Regions from separate parts of the Homo sapiens genome. Here regions 1, 2 and 4 are each linked to region 3. The links come from fine-mapping of genetic effects on gene expression. A gene starts in region 3. Each other region holds a variant in brackets. All regions are shown on one strand. Distances are from middle to middle.

Region 1 (5,453 bases), 170 kb before region 3:
AGATTTCCCATTTCCTTCAGGTGGACCCGCTGCAGGTGGACCCCCTGCCCCAGCCACAGGAAGCGTGAGCTAGCGCCCATAGGGTGGAACACAGAAACCTCATTACTCCTCCCCAGCCCACTGCAGAGATGACGTGCCAAGGGAAAGCATGAATTCTCTTTGATGTCTTCATTGAAATCAGAAATAAAGGACTGAGCGTGACAGAGCCCTGTGGCATGCCACCGGAGACCTTTCTCCAGAGTGCTGAATTCAGTCAAACGGCATCATTTGGATCCTACCATTTTTAAATGATTTTTTAAAAAATCATTTAAAAAATTTAAATTTCACAAATTTAAAATGCAGTGTTTTGTTTATAAAAGAAACATGCTGGTCCAGGCTCAGCTGCTCACACCTGTAATCCCAGTGCTATGGGAGGCAGAGGCAGGAGAATCATTTGAGCCTGGGAGTTCAAGACCAGCCTGGGCAACAGAGTGAGACCCTGTCTCTACAAAAAAAAAAAGAAAAAAAAATTAGTCGAGTGTGGTGGTGCGTGCCTGTAGTCCAAGCTACTTGGGAGGCCGAGATGAGAGGATCCCTTGAGCCCAAGAGATGGAGGCTGCAGTGAGTTATGATCACACCACTCCACTCTAGTCTGGGCAACAGAGCTAGACCCCATCTCTTAATAATAATAATAATAATAATAATAATAATAATAAAAACCATGCTCATCATATTGAATTTAAAAAATTCAGTAAAGTACAAAGAAGAAAATGAAAATTAATTAGCCTACTGCCCACAGAGAAATCCTGTTCACATTTGATGTGTTCCTTCCAGTCTTTTTGGTAAATATATTTGTACACCAAATTGAGATCATACGGAAAACTGAGATCCTGCTTTTCAAACAACAAACAGCTTTAGACTGTAACCATTTCCCAATGCCATTAAACATGTTTCGAAAATGCAATTTTGTGGCAGCCTAATACTCTACCACATAGGTTTATCATTACTTAACTAGACCACTATTATTGGACAATATAGGTTGTTTGCTGTTGTTCACATGAGAGATAATGCCATGACCCTTGTCTTGTTCCTAAAACTTGGCCCACAGCTGGGATCACTGCTTTGGAACAGAGTTGTAGAAATGAATGTCTGGGGTCACAGAAATGAATGTCTGGGGGCAAACATCAAGAACATTTTAAAGGCCAAATGCGGTGGCTCGCGCCCCATAACCCCAGCACTTTGGGAGGCCGAGGCGGATCACCTGAGGTCAGGAGTTCAAGACCAGCCTGGCCAACCTGGTGAAACCCCATCTCTACTAAAAATACAAAAAATTAGCTGGGTGTGGTGGCAGGTGCCTGTAATCCCAGCTACTTGGGAGGCTGAGGCAGGAGAATCACTTGAACCCAGGTGGCAGAGGTTGCAGTGAGCTGAGGTCGCGCCACTGCACTCCAGCCTGGGCAACAGAGCAAGACTCCATCTCAAAAAAAAAAAAAAAAAGAAAGAAAAAAAGAACATTTTTAAGGGCAGTGATAAATATTGCTACATTTCCTTAGAATATCTGTACTCATACTCAAAGTGTGCCTGCTTCATTCACCCAGCCATAAATCCCTCTTCATCTTAACAGGGTTGATGCTTTATAAATGGTGTATTATTTATTTCTTTAACAGTAGAGTTAGATATTTTTCCATATGGGCTTTCTCTTAGCCACTTGGATTTTTTTCTTTGTTTCCTTCCATTGACAATTTTGTTTCCTTATGATTTAGAGGAGGTTTTATATATTAAGATATATTTATCACATTGCAAATGTTTTTCCTGCTTGTCATTTGCCTTTTCATTGTGTTTTTTGACAGAAGTTTGGTATTATACTTATCCAAATATATCCATATTCCCCTTTACAATTCCTTCAATTGGATTTATGCTTAGAAAGCTCTTGACAACCAATATTTTCTTCTTGATTTGTGTGATTTAAATAGTTGAATGTTGTATTGGCTTATATTTGTCACATGATAATTTAATTTCCTATTTATTAAATTTATGTTATATATTTATTTATAACACAATAAGCATTCTGTGTTTATCACGGTAGGTTATTTGTAAGAGGGGTATTTTCAACTATTTTATTCAACTGAACTGTCTATGAAAGTTTATGCACATATGGCACTATTTTAATTATCTTCACTTTACAAGATGTTTGGAGGAAGTCTCTTACTTGCTTGGGTCCCACAGCTGTCTC[G/A]GCCATTCTTGACCGTTCATGTTCCTTTGGAGGAAGTCTCTTCCTTGCTTGGGTTCCGCAGCTGTCTCAGCCATTCTTGACCATTCATGTTCCTTTGGAGGAAGTCTCTTCCTTGCTTGGGTTCCGCAGCTGTCTCAGCCATTCTTGACCATTCATGTTCCTTTGGAGGAAGTCTCTTCCTTGCTTGGGCTCCGCAGCTGTCTCAGCCATTCTTGACCGTTCATGTTCCTTTGGAGGAAGTCTCTTCCTTGCTTGGGTTCCGCAGCTGTCTCAGCCATTCTTGACCGTTCATGTTCCTTTGGAGGAAGTCTCTTCCTTGCTTGGGTTCCGCAGCTGTCTCAGCCATTCTTGACTGTTCATGTTCCTTTGGAGGAAGTCTCTTCCTTGCTTGGGTTCCGCAGCTGTCTCAGCCATTCTTGACCGTCCATGTTGCTTTGGAGGAAGTCTCTTCCTTGCTTGGGTTCCGCAGCTGTCTCAGCCATGCTTGACCGTTCATGTTCCTTTGGAGGATGTCTCTTCCTTGCTTGGGTTCCGCAGCTGTCTCAGCCATTCTTGACCGTTCGTGTTCCTAGATGGTGCTTAGAATCACTTCATAACATTTCCAACTATGAATCTGGGAAAGGCCAACCTCTCGATTATACCCAGCTTCCCATGAGGACAGCATTTGTGTCTTCATTTGTGATCACTTTCTTCCTATCATTAATCAGGTACAATTTCCTTCCAATGGGTCCATTGTCTTGTCAGGACTATTCCAGGTATTCTACATTTTTGGTTACTACCATAATGGAAATTTTCTCTCCCTGTTTTCCCCACTACCAAGGCTGTTGTTTTTGGTTCACACAGAAGCTACTGATTTTTTAAACAATGGTCTGATATTTGGCCACATCACCAGACTCCTCTCCTAACTCTACAAGTTGTACCGTGGATTCTTTTAGGTTTTCCCGACACATGATTAACAGCAAACAATGAGAATTTGTCTCTGCTCTTTTCCAATACTAGTTTCATGTCACATACAAGTATCTAGGATTTTCAGAACCACAGTAACTAGTTTATGGGTCTTTTTTGTTTGTTTGTTTCCAAGACTATCTCCAGGGCAGTGCTCCCCAGAGCAGGTTCAGCAGGCTGCGGATCTGCTGAGCAAGAAGCTTCCGTGGAGAAAGTTTTCAGAGACCACCTGTACTGCTCGGACTCTCGGAGGTACACCATGCACAGCTCCACAGGAAAGTCTCCGGGAAATTTCACCCCCAGGAATGCCCATTTTCCTTTGTTTGACCAGCATTTTCCAGACTTCTTTGACCTTGGGACCCCTCTATAGTCCTCTGTAACATCTACTCATATCCTAAGAATTCGCTGTGCAGAACACTTTTAGGGAAATGTGCTTCTTTTTCCGCCTTTAAATACAATCTTGGTTGTCCTGTTGCCCTCTGTTACTAGTTTTCTGGGGATCTGGAAAAGGAGGAGTGCCCTGTGAGGGGCTACGGGGCCGTCACGCCCTTGCCCTGCCAGAGGCTTCAACACTGGAGCCCTGAGGCCTCTCTCCCAGGCTCCCCCTAGGCAGCAAGCTCCTCATGCCTGCAGTTGCTTCTGCTACCCCCAGCTCCAGACCCCGCAGGGCTCCAGACCCACATCCACATCTTCTTGGCCTCCTCCGCTGGGATGGCACCAGGTACCTCTAACTGCACATCTCAGCTGACCTCTTCAGCTTCCCTCCTGTGCTCCCCAATCTCAGGGGTTGATACCATCATCTACCCAGCTGAGAGTCTCTCCGCCTTCACCCACCTAGTGCCACATCCTCTCGAAGTGGCCTCCTCTGTCCTCCTGTCTGTATCCCTGGACCCAGGCCTGGTCCCAGTCCAGCTGCCAGCATCCCCCATTTGATGGCAGTGACTGTCTCCTAAGCCACTGCTCCCACCTGCCCCTTCTGCACACAGGAGCCAGTGATCTTCTTAGAAATGCACATGGGATCGTGTCACTGCTTAAAGCTGCCCTCATGGGCAAGCCAAACCCCTTGGCGGGAGACGCAGGTCTGCTCTGCTCCTTGCGATCGGCTCCTTCCGACGTCTTTGGCATTGGGTCTGCTGTTCCTGTCCCTGTGCTCGTCCCTCTGGGTTCAGCTGCCCTCCCTCCCCTCCCAGCCTATGAACTCAGAGCATCTCTATGCTGGTGACTTCACTGGACCATCTTCAGGTGTGGGTGGAACGGTCACTTCCTCCCGTTGCTTTTCCTGACCTTGTAAGGAAAGACTGCCTGACCCGCGTCTCCTCCATCCAGCCCTGAGCCCTGGTACAATTGTTTCCTTGTCTAGATCTGCCTTCTGGAAGCGGTCCCCTGAGGACAGAGACTATGCCAGTGAATATTCCCAGCACAGCACTTCCCACACAGAAGCCCTTCAAACAGTATTTGTTAGAGGATGAGTTTTGTCATTTGGAAACTGATGTGATGAACTGTATGAATAGATTTCCTGATATTAAACAATCTCCACATTCCTAGGATAAGCCCTAGATGATCACGGTAGAAGTTTCTCTTTATACATTATTCAATTAAACTCTTAATGCCTTGGGATTTTTACTTCTATTTTTAGAAGTGAGACAGGTCTGTACTTTGTCCTGACGGGCTACCTTTGGCATCTTTGGGTATAAGGGTCCCATTGACTACGAAAGACACATTGGGTAGATTTCAGAATACATGAGTTTACAGGGTATTGTATTAGTCTTGCCTGATAAATGCTTGCAAATGAGTATGAATGCACTGGCAAAACTTTGGAAAAGGTGAAGAACTTGAGTTCCCTCCATGGTTATGGGACTTATGGCATATTCTCCATTTTTTGGAGTCAGCTTTGAAATATTCACATCCCAGGAAATCCTCAATTTCCCCAGGATCTCCGTGTCCCTGGCATAGAGATCCTCAAATTCTCACCTTCAGGGTTTGACTCTCTTCTGCAAATGTTCTGACTGTGATCACATACTCCTTCTACCTACCTGAGGCAGTTAAGGAAAAAAAAAGAAAAAGAAAAAGAAAAGGCTTAGGGTCGGGATAATTTAGCATAGAGCCTGCTAAGGAGTAATTAATAAAGGAGGCTTTATTCCATCAAGTACTCAAGACTGGGAAAGAGCAGACACTTTTCAGGCCAAATAAGATCCAAAGCTTTGCCAGCACTGGTAAGCAATTAACCCTAGTCAATTACAAAATTCTTCTTTTTAAACAATGTAGGAGCAACCTGGGGGAAAATGCAAGCCGCCAC
Region 2 (5,453 bases), 71 kb before region 3:
ATGTTCAGGAAGACAAGCACCATATGGAATCTGGGATCAGAGACATGGCCAAGGGCACGTGGCCAGCTCACCTCGCCTGAGCAGAGGCCCCCAGAACCACCCTGAATCTTCCAGGAGAGGCCAGCCAGAAGCACCAAGCCCACAGCACAAGTGACCAGCCCCTGAGCTCTCGGGGACACAGGGGTTGCTAATGCCACTGGGCTTGCCCGACAGCAGCTAGCTAGCAAGGAGCAAAGCTGGGGCCCTGCCCCCGGGTCTGGAGCACTCGCTCAGCCCCTTCCACGCTGGCCCTCCTAGATTACTCCTCCTTCCTTCCCTGCAAAATAGTCCAAGGGTGGGGATAAGTCGAGGCTGAGACCACAGCTGGAAAAGGCTGGGCAGGCAGTACCCAGTGGCCCGGCTGTCTGCAGCATAGCAGACGCTGATTTGTCACCAAGGAACAAGGGGCCACCGGTTGCACTGATTGGCTCCAGAGTACATTGGGCTTCCTGATGGAACAATTCCTTTGCAAAGGTATCTGATGCCGTTTCATGAAATTAGAAGTATGCCTGCCAGGCTGTACCCAATTTTTCTGTCAAGCTAGGAAGTCAGACAGACCTACAGTAAATGAGGCGGGGCTGCTATGGAGTGACGGGAGTACCTTAGTAAATCACAGCACGGGGGCTGGCCCAGCCCAGGCCCCTGGAGCACTCGCTGTGAACGTGCAGGTGTGCCCGATCCTGGGCCCCAGACTCCAGACTCTCCTCACCCAGGGGTCCTGACCAGAGGCTGAGGGCTGAGCTCGCAGCTTCCCACTCTCCCAGCAAGAGCCAAGCACAGGCCAGGAGTCCCTGACCACACGGGGGACCCTGAGAACTATGGGCCTGCAGAACCACATCAGACACCAACCCTGGCTTCACCACAATCCAGGACCAGAGACTGGGGGATGCTGGGAGGTGTGGGCTGGCACAGTGAGGCCAGATCTGAGGCGACAGTCATGGACTGTCACCATGGCCGCCTGGCAGCTCCTTTCACGTTTCTGGGCCCAGGGCACACGTGGGTTCTGAGTTGAAAAAGACAGACGCCCATGAGTCTGTGCAGAGACTGCTGAGGCTGCTGGGAGCACCTCCAGAGTCCTTGTAGGGCACATGCCTCCAGGGATCCAGAAAGAGCATGCAGGGCCTTTCTCCCTGAGCAGCCAGGTGAGGGTTGGGACCTACCACAGGCACCCTCCCAGGGACCATGGCAGCACAGAGCAGGAGAGGCGCTGTCTGGGGCTCTGGAGGCCTCTTCACAGGCACAGACTCAGAGACGCAGGCACTGGACTCAGGCCTGGCCGGGGGCCCCCGCCCCGCTCCACGACACTTGCTTGCCTTTAGGCAACAGAAGATGGGCCCTTGGACAGCCTTCATAGTCCACCATGGAGGCCCCAGACATGAAGGCAGAGGTGTCTGGGCTGCTTGTCACCCACATGCACCCAGAACAGAGGCCCCAGCCCCAGCAGCCCTGCTACGCCCTGCCGTCAGCCAGGCAGCTGGCCCATTTCTGAGCCACTGAGACCGGGGCTCAGCCTCAGCAGCCAAGCTGGTCTGTGGAGAGCTGCCTGAGTCTCTGGGATGCTCCCCTGGGGACCAGGGCCTCAGAGGGCTCTCCACACAGCCTGCCCACCTGCAGTAGCCTCACCTGTGTCCAGGGCCTGTGGCCCCCCGAGAGGAGGGGACGTGGGTGGCCGGCGATACACCACATGCACACGGCCTTGCTCAGCCTCCTGCGCCGCCAGCCCCTTCTCCAAGGGTTCGATGAAGAACTCCTCCTCCTCCATCCGGATCAGACCAGCCTGCGGGACAAAGACAACAGGATCAGATTTCCAGCACACAAAAGACCAAGGAAGGGGAACAGCGAGGAGACCCCCTCAGGGAGTACCTCCCACCTGAAGACCCTGCCCAGCACCCCAGCTGGTGCTCAGCTTGAACCCTGGGCTGGCCGGAGGGTATGAACATGTGGTCCCAGAGGCCGCCCCCCGCCGCCCACCCTGTCTAGGAAAGGGGCCTCTGTCTGGGTCATCTCCACCCCTATACACCAACCCTGTCTGCTTTCAGAAAAGTTACTGTGTTTATAAAGTCAAAACCGTCCAGAGAAGCAGGGAGACATTCAAGGGCAGCTGTGGGCCTGTGCGTGTCCCCAGGAGGGCATCCACCAAAGTGCATCAATATGGGCCAAGTGCTGCCCCCACTCCCAGGAGCCCAGAGTCCAAGACAAAGGTCAAAACAGCCAGCCGGGGATTGAATCTGCCCACACACATGTTCCATCTGGGCCAAACAATATTTTTAAAGCTCTGAAGCTAACACTCAGAATGATGAGATTTCATGTCTTGAACATGGAATCCCAGCTTTCCTTGGAAACGCAGGCCCTGACCACAGCGGGTCTTGGATGGAACACATGCCCCTGCAACTGGCTCCAGTCCCTACTGCCCCCCAACTGTCTCTCCTGCTCTCTGTGTCAGCCACCAGCCCAGACTCTACAGGCAGCTGAACTGCTGCCCCTGACCCCCTAGGCCAGCCAGCACCCTCCCTGACTACAAACTCCTCGCTGGGTCCTCATTTCCGTTGGGACTCAGGCTGCTCTATATGCTGGCATTCAGGCTCTTGGCCTGCCCCACCCTCCCAGACCGCGGCTTGCACCACCCCATGCTTCTCACTGGGCTGGGTGCACCCTGCCGAGCCACCCAGCCCCTGAACCCCATGCTGCCAACTCAGGAATCCCCATTCTCCCACCCCACCACCCCATCCCCAGCTCGGCCATCTGGTAAACCTGTGTTCCCCCTTCGAGGCCTGATTCAGACCCCCTCAC[C/G]TCTCCTGCCCTCCCCTGCCATCCAGCCTGCCCTCCCCTGCCATACCCTGCCCTCCCCTGCCATACCCTGCCATCCAGCCTGCTGGCACCATCAGGTCCACCCATCCCATGACAACTCCAGCTCCTACACTTTTATCTTCTGGTCCATTATCCATAAACCAAGGTCTCACACTGGAAGTGCACACTGTGTCCAGCCTTCAGAGTGTTTCCTTCAGATCACAAGCTTATGACCCATGCAGGGGATTTTAAAAGCTTGAATTTGTTGCCAAACTTAAGAAACAGGAGAGTTCACATAAACGACCAGATTTCCAGACTCTCTTGAAAATCAGAAAAGCTGGCATTTCCAGCACCCATCGACACTCCAGCTTAGCTGGCGCTGGCCGGGGTCCCCTGTCCAGTTAGGAGTGTGCCCTCTGGTGGGCAGCCCCCGGCACCTGCCATCTGGATGTGCGGAAACCACACCCCCCCCAAAGTAACCTCATGATGGCCTCTGCCATATCATCATCTTGGTTGTGGGGGGGCACGGTGGCGCACGGGCTGCCCCTCCTTCTCCCTGACCCCAGGTGCTCGGTGAGCCCCATCCTGTTGCTGGCTGGGAGCCTCTGCAGACCGAGATGCAGTCAGTGCCCCCCAGGGCCTGCTGGGCGGCTGCCCCTAGCCTCAAGTGTAGCGAGGGAGGCTGGAGATGCCTCCCGGCGCACTCAGCCTGGGCCCTCGGGAAGCTGATGTGCCAGGCAGGGGCTGGTGGAGGTGCAGGGCCTGGAGGAACACAGAGCCCAGCATCAGGCCTGGCTCCAGAATGAAGGATGCCTCCGGCAGGAGGTGACATCTACCCAAACCCACCCAATCCCTTTGTGCTGGCCAGGCAAAGAGTCAGAGAGAGGACCAGTGCTCCATATGGGGGAAACCGCACATGCCATGGCCGGGGAGGTGGACGGAGCACAGCTGGTGGGAAGAGCTGACCAGGTGGGTGGACAGGAGCATCAAGGGCACGGTGCCCGGTGGCCCATCACTCAGGGGGCTGGTGAGGGAGATTGTAGGCAGCCCAGGGCTTCTGGGGGGAGCCTTGATCTGATTCCAGTTCAGAAGCATGGTGGCTGCGGCAGGGGGAATGGGCTGCGGAACAAAAATGGGTCTGGGGTCCTGGGGAGAAGGTGTTACAGGCACCTGGGAGAGGGGTAATGGTCCAGACGGGAGCATGAGAGACAAGGACGAGTGGCAGGTATGAAGGAGGTGAGGAGCGAAATGGACAGGACGTGGTAGGGTAGAGCCGGCTGAGATGGGAGGGAGGAGGAAGCACCTGGTGGGCTTCCAGGTCTGTGGCTGAAGAACCGGCCCCCAAAGTTACCCAGGCCCCCATCCCTGGCAGCTGTGAGGGTAGTGGACATGGTGGAAAGAGACTCTGCGGGTGTGATCAGGTCAGCTCTGGGGCTGGCTGGGCCCTGAATGCAGTCCTTGCCCACTTCCTTATGCCGGGGAGTGGAGGGGGATTAGGCAGATGCGCAGAGGACGAGGCCATGGGCAGACAGGGAGGATGCCAGATGCCAGCTTTGGAGATTGGAGCGATGTGGCCTCAAGCCAAGGAATGCTGGCAGCCCCCAGGAGCTGGCAGAGGCCAGAAAGTGTCCTCCCCCAGAGTCTCCAGAGGGAGCGCAGCCCTGCCGATGCCTGGATTTGGGTCAGGTTATACCGACTTCGGACGTCCGGCCTCAGAACTGTGAGAGAACGAATTCCTGCTGTTTTAAGTGGTTCCTTACAGCAGCCGCAGAAAAGTAATTCAGGGTCCTGGTGGGTGGCCGGCAAAGTGGGTGCCATTCTCCGAGGGGCATGAGAAGAAGGGCAAGGGGCGCAGGACCCTCTGGGCTCAGGCATCCTGGGCTTCTGGGGAAGAGGCCTAGGAGGCAGTGGTAACCAGAGTTACCAGGGCAAGACCGAGGTCGGAGAAGGAGGTCAGCAGGGCTGTGGGAGGAGAGCGGAAGAGGGGGTGGGAACCCTGCAGGCCCCACGCTTCTGACTCATCCCTGGGTCTCAGGGCTCAACCAGGCCTGGCGAAGACTCAGCAGATGCCTGTGGAATGAGCGAACCGATGACCCCAAAGCTGCAGGCCACGTCCCCCAAGGGAGGCACCGAGCAGGCAGGCGGGAAGAACACAGCCAGGCCTGTCCACTGGCACAGGGGCAGTGTGTTTACCAGTGCAGGAGTTGGGAGGGTCCAGCACTGATGGTCCCGGTGCGTGGTGTGGAGAAGGCTGGTGCCTCAAATCCATCTTATGACTGAAACTCATTGGATGAAGTGCAGGAATTAACCCTGGGGGGCGGCAGCGGGCAAGCTGTCCTGGAGCGTGAAGTTCTGACTTCCTGGCACCCTTTCTATCTGGCCAGGTGACCTCAGGCAAGGTGTCAAGCTCCCCAAGCGTCCAGTGACTCGTCTGTACATGAGGCAGGTCATTTCCCGTGCACACTCACACAGGAGCACATGCAGCCTGGGAGACACTGAGAACCAGGCCACGCCTCCACCCAAGTGATTTCATCCAGCCAGCTTGCTTTCCAAATGAGGAAACCGAGGCCTAGATGGGCAGACAGGCTGCTGGGGACACACAGGTTCTAGGGATCAGAACTCACACC
Region 3 (5,453 bases):
AGGAGTTCCCTGAGTAGCAATTAGAGCGGAACCCATGGTGGGCGGCTTCAGATGTCTGGCCAGCACAGCCAGCCTGACCACCACACACCCAATCCAAAATAGAAAACTGCAGTGGCCTCTGCTGTGTGCCAGGCCCCGGGCAGCCGGACAGAGCACCGCCAATGTCAGCCTCCTCCCTCAGCATCGATCCAGGCTTCCTCTGAGGCCCCCTTGTGCTGAGCCACGGTCCCTCCTGCCCTCTCCAGGAAGCAGAGCTTCCCAGAGCTCCAGTCACAGGACTAGAGAGGCGCAGGCAGTCTCAAAAGGGATCCCCTAGCCTCTCTCTTGTCCTTCAGGCGCTGCCCCCAAAAGATCGAGCAGCTCATGGGCACTAGAGCCTTCATTTCCAAATGCACCCCTCAGCTCAAAATAGAGAAAACCAACTTTTCAAAGAACCAGCTGGAGTTCAACAGGAAACCACAGCAGAAAAACCAATGATTCCCGGTCAGCCAAGGGGCAGAGGGCTAACTGGGCATTTCAGCATCACTGCCAGCTCCCTGGGCTGGTATTACCCGCACGCAAGGAAACAGGAAGACTGACTGCCAGCCCATAAGTCCACCACACACATATCACGCCAGTATGCACAAGGACGGACACAAACTCAACAGATGCTCAACACACTGATGTGCAGAAACCCAGACACATACGTGCACAAGAGACACTGGCACACGCACATGTTCACACAGGTGCACGGGCACCCAGATGCAGGTACACACCAACGTTCCACAACACATGTGCACACACTCACAAAGGTACACACACATACACGGACCCACCCCCGGATGCAAGCCAGAGACCTGTTCAGGCAGGCAAAAGAGAGAGGCGCACGCTCCTGCCTGCTGAGCCTTTTGGAGACCCGGGCGCTCCCCATGCATAAATGGCCCCCTGCTCAGACCAGTCAAAACAACCTGCTTTCCAGCCAAGCCCTTCAGTTGGAGCACGAGGCTCACTAAAGCACGGGAAGGGCGCGGAAAGTCCTCAGCGCAGGCCTTGCCCTCCCAAGGGACTCCCAGGTAACCCTTTTCCAAAACCCAGGCGAGAGCAGCGGAGAGAAAGGAGCTAGAGAAGTGCGTACTCACCAGCCCATCGCAGTTGCTGAGCGCCACAGAGGAGGCTTCGGCTAGGCCGGCCACGTCTCCGACGTAGAGACAGCTCCCGAGCAGGGGCTCCACGCGGGTGGTGCCCTTCTCGCCCTGCCACTCCATAGTGGCCCCGGGCGCCACGAGGCGGGCGTTGGGCCGCAGCCGCAGGTGCAGGTCTCGGCCAAAGACCGTGACATTGTAGAAGAGGTGACTGCCAGGCTCCTCCTCGTTGCCTCCGGGGAAGCTCGGGGTCCGGACCGGGGCGGCCCTGCGGGCTCGTACCCCTGCTCTGGACGTAGCTGCCGACACCACGTGGGACACCAAGCGGCCCTGGGCGTCAGTGCGCACGGGCACCGCCAGGATGCGCTCCGCTCCGTGCCCCAGGGGCCCGCCTGCAACGGGAAGGGGCGTTAGATCGGCGGAGACCACGGAGCCCCAGTGCCTCAGAGACCCGCCGGCAAGCCACGCCCCCCCAGACCCCGCCCCACTGCGAAGGGAAGGGGCATTCCGCCAGGCGACCCCAGAAGCCAGCCTGCACCTCCCCGGCTTTCCTGCAACCGGGAAGGGGCGTTAACAGGGCCACCACTCCGGGGCTCCGCCACTCCCCAGCCGTTCCCTCCTCCGGAGACCTTGCCTGCCAAGAGCTCTGCCCCCTGCCCCGTTCAGGGTTGGGGCTCGGTGGGAACCTCCCCGTGCCCGAAGGGACGACCCCGTCAGAGAGTCCCCCGACCCTTGCACCTACCGTCCTTGGCAGGACGTGGAGCTGCTCGGAAGCCATTCCGGGTTGGCCCCCTTACCCGTGTGCCACGACCCCTCGGCGGGCCCCTGCCGCCCGAGTGCCCTCACCGCCAGCCTCCGGAGCGGCGGAGTCTCGGCTTCCCCGAGCACGAGCGGCCTGTCCTGCCTGTCCAGCTCCCGCTCAGCCCGCTGCCGGCCCCGTCTCCCCGAGCGCCCGAGGACTGGGAGGGGTGGAACAGGGTCCCTCCGATCTCCGGGGATTCCCTGCGGGGCGCCCCAACCAATCCTTAGGGCCCAAGGCTACGCGCTCGGCAGCCGGCTCCTCCGGAGCGTCCCCGGACGCGAGCCCCGGCGCCGCCTCGCCCTGGCTCCCCCCTCGGACCCGCTGGGGCTGACTCTGCGCTCTTGGCCGCGGGGCTTTTCCCGGCCCTCCGTCCCCACCCTCCGCGACTCAGGAGCCGCCAGTGCTCCGAGGCTCCCCCGGCCCAAGGCGCTCGGGGGCGGTGCGGGGCGCCCCCTGCGCGACCAACCCGGCCCCGAAGTTGGCCAACTTGGCCCCGGGCGGGGCGCGCGGAGTTTGCCCAAGTCAGGCTGGACGACGCCTGGGGAGGGGGCGGCGGGGCACGCGGGACAGGGCCAGGCCGGCGGGGGTCCCGGGGAGTAGGGGCCGGGCCGCACCTACCTGGGGGGTCGGCGGCGGCGGCGAGCCTGGCGTTCGCGGGCGGCGGCGGCGGCGGCAGGAGCGGCGGCGGCAGCAGCAGCAGCAGCAGCAGCAGCGCGGGGCAGAGCAGGCGGCGAGCGGCTCCCGCCGGCGGATCCATGGCAGCCGGACTGCAGCCGGGGCCCCGCACTCGCAGCCGGCGCGAAAGTTCCCCGCGAGCCGCCCAGCCCACATCTGGGGGCAGCTGGAGCCGCCCGCAGCTGCAGCACCGCAGGGCGCGGGGCGGAGGAGGCGAGGCGCGGAGGGGCGGGCGGGGGAGCGCGGAGGGAAGGCGGGGAGAGGGAAGGAGCGAGCGAGCGAGGGAGGCAGGCGGGAGGGAGGGAGGCGAGCGAGGGGGAGGGCGGGGACGGCGGGCGCCTCAGCCTGCGGTGACCCGGCGCATCTTGGCGCGGCCGCCGCCGCCGCCCGCTTCCCTCTTCGCGCCGCCGTCGCCGCGGTGCCGGGCTCGCAGCGAAGCAGAGACACCCCGAGGCGGCGGCAGAGAAGCGCCGCGGGCCGGGCCGGGGGAGCCCCGCCGCCAGCCACCCCAGGGGCACAACCTCCGAGGAGCGGCGCCGGCCGAACGTCCCCACCTAGAGAGCCCTTGGGGTGCCGGGTCCCACCCATCAGCCCTGGAATTCAAGGGGTGCATCCCCCTGTCTCTGTGCTCTGGGGCAGGACAGGGTGAGGGAATGAAAGGGGAGGGGGGACTGACTACTGGGTCCAAGGTCTGAGCCAGGCCGAATGCCCAAATAGAGGCCGCAAAGGCCAGAAGATGCTGTTAGGAGGGTACACCCAGGGCGCGACCCCAAAGATCAACTTTTGCCCTTACTGAGAGAGGCAAGGCTCCTTCAGTCCCCAGTTCCTCTTCCTCTGAAGTCCCTGTCCCCTGTCCCCCATCTGCCTTCCCATCCCTCCGCTGCAGCCTCAGCACAGCCTCTTCCTGCCAGACCTGGGCTCTCTGCCCATGAGCACAGTCAGGCTCCTGCCCTCACCTGTCCTCAACCCCACGTATGCATTCTGTCCTCCCGCCATTGCACTCCCGGCCCCCAACCTGAAATGGCCTCTCCAAGCTCTGCCTACCTTTTCCACCCAAGCATCCAAGGACACCTGGGCCCATTCTGGGGCCAGTTTGCTGTTAGAGCCCGTTGCCAACCGGAACCCCTCCCCAGTCCCTCCTCTCCAGCAAGGCCCTGATCCTCCCATGCTGTCTGAGCTCAGCGGCCTCTCTCCAGGGCCTGCCTGAGAGCCCCCTCTCAGGCTGTTGATCATCTCTGCCCTGGGACCCCCAATTTCTGCCTCACTTCCCCAGAGGGTGAACACCCACCCCTTTGATTTTCTCATTTGCCCTGCCCCAGGTCTGTGTGGCCAGGGCTTTGGTCTTTGCTTTGGCCAGGGGCAGAGGACCCGGAGATGACTCAGGCCTCTCCCTGCTGGCCAGGAGGTCCCAGTCGTTGGGGGAAACACGACTTACACAGCAGGCTCTAACTGTGATCTCACGTCCTTGGTTCTTTCGATTGTGGGTCCTGGGTGTGAGAGCATCGCAGCTGGACAGCCATCTTCACCTGCAAGCTGTACTCTTTCTGTGTCACCTAAGGGTGCCCGAGGCTGGATCCAGCTCCCAGGCATGGTGAGATGTCACATGGAAATTTAGATTGGTAACTTTTCTTGAGATATTGGAAGATGTGGCCACGCTAGCCCCACAGTCCTGCTTAGCAACCATTAAATGGGCACTTACCTTGCAGTTTGTGGCAGGTCCCGCCTCTCCTCACTCTCTGTAGGCATCTGCTCTCGTGACCTGTGATGACCCAACTGGTTCCAGAGAAAGTTGGAACTGGAATCCTAGTATACCACAGAGATGACTCCAGAGCTGGGCATCCAGGAGGACTTCCTGTAAGAGGTGGCATGAGTTGAATTGTGAAGGCTGGGGGAGCTAGGCAGCCCAGAGTTGGGTCCAGCCAGTTGCTGTCCTGGAACCCATGACGCATTCCTCCTGTGGTTGTCAGCGCTTCCATCCTCTTCGAAACACGAGTGAAACCCAACCAGCAGCCGCCCCTACTTCAAGGGGCATGTTCTGCACCTTCCTGCCGTGTCTATGGTTGGGTATTTCTTTACACAGCGCCTAAAACTTTTTTCAATTTTTTAAAGGATACTTTAAATCACTACTATAAATGGAAAAGCCAGCATCTCACCATGTTTCCATAAATCAAAGATAATTGCTAAAAATAAATACAACAAGAAGAGAAATGTTATCAAATTCCAGATACTTTGACCTGCTAAAGATACCGAAGGCTGAAGCTGATTAGTAAGTGTTACAAAAGCCTTAAGATGGACTAGCACAGAGGTCGTTGTTCTGATGTGATTGGAAGGATGAAAGGAGGCCTGAAAAGGAGTAACTCTGACTTTATGAGTTGATGGCATCTTCTAACAGGTTCACAGAGCTAAATTATTTTGTATACTTTGGGATACTTGCTTTGGGATATTTTTGGGGGAAAGAATTTGTCTCCTGGACACTGAATAACCCCAGGCAGCTGATTCTTCCCACATCACCCGTGCCCCTGCCACCAGGGATGAGTTGGGGATGGAGCAGCACCCTTGCCTGGCCCTTCCTTTAGTGCCCCCACTGTCACCCACCAGGGTGGTGGATGAACAAGGCTCACATGCACCTAACTTCACAGTTAAACCCTCAGGGAGGTGGAGGAGACTTGCAGACACATCCCAGCCCGTGATCATTTGTCCTCCACTCAGAAACAAACAGAAAAACAAAAAACAACCAAAGAACAACAACAAAAATCTTGCTACTTCTTCAAACCTCCATGATTCAAATCTTGCCTCTCCCCCCTTACTGGTGTTTGCCTCTTTCTCTGGTCCCCCTTTTCCTCTTCCAGGTAAAA
Region 4 (5,453 bases), 33 kb before region 3:
AGGTCAGGAAATAGAGACCATCGTGGCTAACATGGTGAAACCCTGTCTGTACTAAAAATACAAAAAAAATAGCCACGCATGGTGGCACGCACCGGTAACCCCAGCTACTCAGGAGGCTAAGGCAGGAGAATCGCTTGAACCTGGGAGGCGGAGTTGCAGTGAGCCGAGATCATGCCATTGTACTCCAGCCTGGGCAACACAGCAAGACTCAGTCTCCAAAAAAAAAAAAAAAAAAAAAAAAAAAGGCTCTGGCCCTGCCACTTGACCGGGTGGGTCACCTCTCCGTGCCTCAGTTTCTTCTATTTAAAATGCATAGGGGAGGAGCTCTGAGGGCAAAACACCCTGGGTTTGCCTCAGGGCAGGGCAGGACCCTGGACCCAGCAGGCCCCCACTGCATGTCCCTCCTGTCCTCCCTGCCCCACCCCTGCCCTCTGGCTTCTGGGGTTCAAGTCAGGGAGGCCTTGGGAGTAGCCTGCGGCCCTGGGGACAGACAAGGGTGCCCCTGAATGTCCTGTGGATCTGCCCAGGTTGATGCCTTGACTGCTCCTTCCTGTCACCCAGGACCCTCCAGGAGAGACCACCCCGGACTACGCCTGCCCAGGGCTCCCTGCACGTCCCATGTCCCCACAGCGCTCAGGCGCTGAGATGCTCTGCTGTCTGCTGTGGGGGCCTGTGGACGGCCCTCCTCCCCCACCAGGCTGCAGCTCCCAGCGGGCAGGGATCTAGGCATGCCTTGCTCATACCACAAGGCAGAAACACAGTGAAGAAAGACAGAGAACTGGTCTTGTTGTCTTTGGGGGCTCAGCCCCCCAGCTCCAAGCTGGAGGATCAGGAGGCATCTACAAGCCTTTCCGAAGCCCCCCCATAGGCTGCCTTGCAGGGTACAGTATGGCCTAGAGAGCCCCAGAGGGCTCCCCTGGTCATTAAATATCTCAGGATTTCCAGGAACAAGGAGAGGTTCAAGTCCACAGAAGAATCTGATTGGCGTCTCTGGGCCACCCACCGGTGCTAGAATCCCGGCTGGGGTGAGGGATGGTGGTGCAGAGCCTGGCTATGCAAAATGTGGCCTGGAGCAGCCTGGGGGCCCCCGGGAGCTTGTTAGAGATGCTGAATCCAGGCCCCATCCAGACCAGCTGAACTAAAACCTGCATTTTGGCAAGTTCCCAGGTGGTCTGATGACATTGAAGTCTGGGACACACTGCTCTAGACCTTCCCAGGGTCCCTCAAAGGTGGGTGTAGAGGCCCTACTGCCCTGCCCTGGGGACGCAGAGGCATCAGGGCCTTAGTCCTCCTGGGGACAGTGAAAGGGCCACCACCCCAGACCATGGCCAAACTGCAGGGGTCAGGGAGGCATGGCCCAGGACAGCAGCTCAGCAGGGTGCCCAACCCCACCTGCCCCTGCCTGCCCCAACCCACTTGCCGGCTGGGTCCTCTGGACCTCCGCCCCTTTCCACCCCAGGTTGGAGCCAAAGACCACCCTCTCCACTCCCCAGCCCCCCACCCCCCAACCCACCGAGTGCAGGGCCCGTTGACTCCTATCTCAACAACAACAGGAAACCATTTTTCCAGACAGCATTATATAAGGGGAGGATGCGTATGTTCAGCAGATGTTCACTCTGAGGCCGAGCCTCCCCCGCCCTCTGAACAGGAAGGCCACGTCCCCATCCCTCTCCCCCAGGGCCTGGCGCTCCTGGCCCAGGTGGAGCTGGCCTCTGGCTGGCCACTTCTCTGGAAGGGCCTCGTCCAGCTCTGTCCTGTGCAGGGTCATGCCCCTCCACTCTGCTCTCTCTAGCCCATGGGCAGGCGCCGCCTGGCTCAGAGGCACAGCAATGGGCCAGGGTCAGACAGTGGTGAGCAGCATGCCAAGAATCACAGGGACATCCACCTGCCAGCAAAGCCTCAATGACAACAAAGGACCTGAACAGTGGACACTGACAGGGACTCTCCTGCTTGACCAAACTTTAGTCCAGCTCCTGAACCTTCTCCTTCGCCCACTTCCTTGTAAGATCCAGTTTATCAAGAACTCTGCTAAGTCATGAATGCCCCATCTCTCCATATCTGATCACCCTTGATATCTGGTCAGGCTCGTCCTCCCCATCACCCCTCTGGTGATGTCTGGTCACCCCAGCCTGTCTTCAGCTAGAATCATGTTAGGTGAGTTTAGCTAGAATCCCCGACCCCTGATGTTGCTCTTAGTAATTCCCCATCCCCTGGCCCCTACCCTGCTCCTTGGCTATCACCCCCCACTCGCCCGTGCTGTATTCGGAGTTGAGCCCAGTCTCTCTCCCCGACTGCAAGAGCCCACTCTAGCGGTTCCTGTGTCTATCTCCATGGTCCTGAATAAAGTCCGCCTTACCGCGCTTTAA[C/T]AAGTATCATTGAATCATTTTTCATTTAACAACACTCTGCCTTGCTGAAGGGAAGGTAGAAATGACAGCAGTGGGGAGGAGGGAGAAGGGGCATGGGAACCCTGTGCCGCTAAGGGCATACTCTAGACCCTCTGCCCCAGGCTAATGTTAGAAGCTGCAGAGGTGCAAATATAACAGTCAGACGACCATGGCAGTGGTCAGCTGAAAAATGGCCCCCGAAGACACGTCCGGGTCCCAATCCCTGGAACCCATAAATGTTACCTTCCATGGCAAAAAAGAACTTTGTAGATGCGGTGAGTCCAAGGATCCTGAGATGGAGTGACTGCTGGATTTTCCGGGTGGGCCCAGGGATAGACAGAATGTTTATATTCCCCCCAAATTCCGATGTTGAAAGCTACTCCCCCAAGGTGATATATTAGGAAGTGGGGCCTTTGGGAGGTGATTATGTCACCAGATTCCATCCACACGAATGGGATTTGTGCCCCGATCAGAGGGACCCCAGAGAGCTCCCTCACCCTTTCAGCATGTGAGGATGCAACAAGATGCCTTCTTGAACCAGGGAGCAGACCCTCACCACAACCATATGCACAGCTTCCAGAACCGTGAGAAATAAGCTTCCGATGCTTTTAAGCCGCTCCGTTTATGGTATTTGGCTATAGCAGCCTGCATGGACTAAGACAGGCCCTAAATGCAATCACACTTCTCTTTATCAGAGGAAGGCAGAGCAAGATGAGCCAGGCAGAGGAGAAGGCCACGTACAGGCAGAGCAGAGGGAGATGGAGGATGTCGGCCCTGAAGCCCAGAGCGAAGAGGCCACAAGCCAAGCACTGCTGGCTGCCACGAGGACCTGGAAGAGCCCAGGACGCATCCTCCCCTAGAGGCTCCGGAGGGAGCGCGGCCCTGCCGCCACCTGCGTTTTGCCCTGTTGAAACTGATTTCAGCCTCCAGAACCGTGAGAGGATACAATTCTAATGTTTCAAACCAGCAAGCTTGTAGTAATTTGCAGGCAGCCTCAGAAACCAATACAATGGGGAACTCTGATATGGACTAAAAGTGGTGAGAGAATTATGGTAGAAGAATGGGGCTGGGAGGGGCAGCAGTGTTGTCAGTGAGCTAAACCCTCCTCTTCCAGGGCAGGAAGTCAATGGACAACATCGAAACCCGATACATCAAGAAACAGCAATAGAATAGCATTTCAGGACTTCATGGCAACCCCAGAACCAGCCAGCAGCCTAAAGCCTTACCGGGGCTCCCTCCTCAGGAGTGGCCTGTGAAGAGGGGACGCACACGCATTCACACTCATGCACACACACACACCGAGACAGAGGAGGGCCTGGCCAGAGCAGGGGTGTCAGCAGAGGGGACGCACACGCATTCACACTCATGCACACACTCACACCGAGACAGAGGAGGGCCTGGCCAGAGCAGGGGTGTCAGCAGAGGGGACGCACACGCATTCACACTCATGCACACACACACACCGAGACAGAGGAGGGCCTGGCCAGAGCAGGGGTGTCAGCAGAGGGGACGCACACGCATTCACACTCATGCACACACTCACACCGAGACAGAGGAGGGCCTGGCCAGAGCAGGGGTGTCAGCAGAGGGGACGCACACGCATTCACACTCATGCACACACACACATCGAGACAGAGGAGGGCCTGGCCAGAGCAGGGGTGTCAGCAGAGGGGACGCACAAGCATTCACACTCATGCACACACACACTCACACCGAGACAGAGGAGGGCCTGGCCGGAGCAGGGGTGTCAGCAGAGAGGACGCACACGCATTCACACTCGTGCACACACACACTCACACCGAGACAGAGGAGGGCCTGGCCAGAGCAGGGGTGTCAGCAGAGGGGACGCACAAGCATTCACACTCATGCACACACACACTCACACCGAGACAGAGGAGGGCCTGGCCGGAGCAGGGGTGTCAGCAGAGGGGACGCACACGCATTCACACTCGTGCACACACACACTCACATCGAGACAGAGGAGGGCCTGGCCGGAGCAGGGGTGTCAGCAGAGGGGACGCACACGCATTCACACTCGTGCACACACACACTCACACCGAGACAGAGGAGGGCCTGGCCGGAGCAGGGGTGTCAGCTCCAGGACCAGGAGTTCCCAGGCAGAACCTGATGGTGGGGCGGGGGGGTTCCTCACACACCCCACACCCCTGCCTATGCCCAGACCTCCAGCTTCAGGCTCTGCATCCACACGGAGGCTTCGGATTGGGCGCAGCCTGGGAGCACACAGACCGGCCAGGGCCAGGGCCAGGACTGGCATTTCCCGGGCTCCTGGTCCCATCCTGCCCCTCCCACCGGGTCGGCCCTGTCCTTGTCTTGCTCAGCTCGGGGGAAGCACCTCTCGCCAGCCATCTGGGGCTTGGCTGGGCCTCAGCCTCCTGGCTGCCACGTCTCACTGGGAGCTGGGCGGCCGCCAGCTCTGAGCTAAGTGAGCGCAGAGGAGAGTGCAGGGAGCGGCAAGGCCAGGCTCCTCCCCACCCCGTGGCGTGGCGTGGCGTGGCCGGAATACTCAGTTTTCCCTGCTTTTTGAGACAAGAGTAGTAAATGCACCGTGCTGTACTCAGAGCCCAGGAAGCAGCCCTCCCACCCACAGCGCTCCTGCCTCTGCAGCCCCCCGGGCCGTGTCTCTCTCTCACGGGCCCACATCCTCACTGGACTGTCTCCCTTTTACAGATGAGGTGAGACAGCATGCAGAGGCCCATGTGCTTGTCCCACAGGGTGACGGGCCAGAATTACAAGCCCCTGATTCTGGGGGCTTCCACGCTCTTCCACCAAGCCCTTGTAGCCTTCCTGCACCCAGGTGGGGCTCCTGTCCCCCGCCAGTGCCCCCAACCTCTACTCCAGCAGACCTCCACCTACAGACAGGAGTCTTGGGCACACACTTTTTTGTGCCAGGCCCAACCAAGAGCTGCAAGGGACATAGGAATGTCCCTTAGCATGGCCCGGGAGCCTCAAGCCCAGGGCCTACCTAGAAGTAACTCTCTTTCCTGACATTAAGCGACTCCCCTCCCAGAGCCTAATCACAGCCAGCTACGCCCCCTTCTCCCAGTTATT

Alleles and levels. Positions count from the first base shown, and alleles are read on the strand shown. Sizes are in standard deviations (SD) of each study's normalised expression. Not every link is listed here.
With allele A in place of G in region 1, the expression in spleen of the gene that starts at base 2,813 in region 3 is higher (moderate effect, 0.41 SD a copy in GTEx).
For the expression in subcutaneous fat of the gene that starts at base 2,813 in region 3, T is the high allele of the variant in region 4 and C is the other (moderate effect, 0.48 SD a copy in FUSION).

Evidence for each region. PIP is the estimated chance that this variant, and not a neighbour inherited with it, causes the effect. A credible set is the group of variants that fine-mapping cannot tell apart.
Region 1: its variant is the best candidate, but not a certain one, in a credible set for the expression of ADAMTS2 in spleen (GTEx, PIP 0.52).
Region 2: its variant is the best candidate, but not a certain one, in a credible set for the expression of ADAMTS2 in lung (TOPMed, PIP 0.62).
Region 4: its variant is the best candidate, but not a certain one, in a credible set for the expression of ADAMTS2 in subcutaneous fat (FUSION, PIP 0.61).

Annotation. Positions count from the first base shown.
Region 1 is chr5:179,172,554-179,178,006 of GRCh38, forward strand. The region is part of intron 5 of ADAMTS2 (ADAM metallopeptidase with thrombospondin type 1 motif 2); the gene reads right to left. Among named protein-coding and RNA genes, the nearest start is that of ZNF354C, 110 kb to the left of the region's middle. The variant G/A (reference allele first, on the strand shown) is at 2,213.
Region 2 is chr5:179,271,249-179,276,701 of GRCh38, forward strand. It overlaps ADAMTS2 (ADAM metallopeptidase with thrombospondin type 1 motif 2), which reads right to left. Exons shown (of 22, transcript NM_014244.5): 3 at 1,663-1,816. Among named protein-coding and RNA genes, the nearest start is that of ADAMTS2, 71 kb to the right of the region's middle. The variant C/G (reference allele first, on the strand shown) is at 2,830.
Region 3 is chr5:179,342,649-179,348,101 of GRCh38, forward strand. It overlaps ADAMTS2 (ADAM metallopeptidase with thrombospondin type 1 motif 2), which reads right to left and starts at 2,813. Exons shown (of 22, transcript NM_014244.5): 1 at 2,542-2,813; 2 at 1,119-1,513. The coding sequence starts at 2,680. LOC105377759 (a long non-coding RNA gene) reads right to left here. Exons shown (of 3, transcript XR_941311.3): 2 at 4,298-4,450; 3 at 3,713-4,131.
Region 4 is chr5:179,309,541-179,314,993 of GRCh38, forward strand. All of the region lies in intron 2 of ADAMTS2 (ADAM metallopeptidase with thrombospondin type 1 motif 2), which reads right to left. Among named protein-coding and RNA genes, the nearest start is that of ADAMTS2, 33 kb to the right of the region's middle. The variant C/T (reference allele first, on the strand shown) is at 2,367.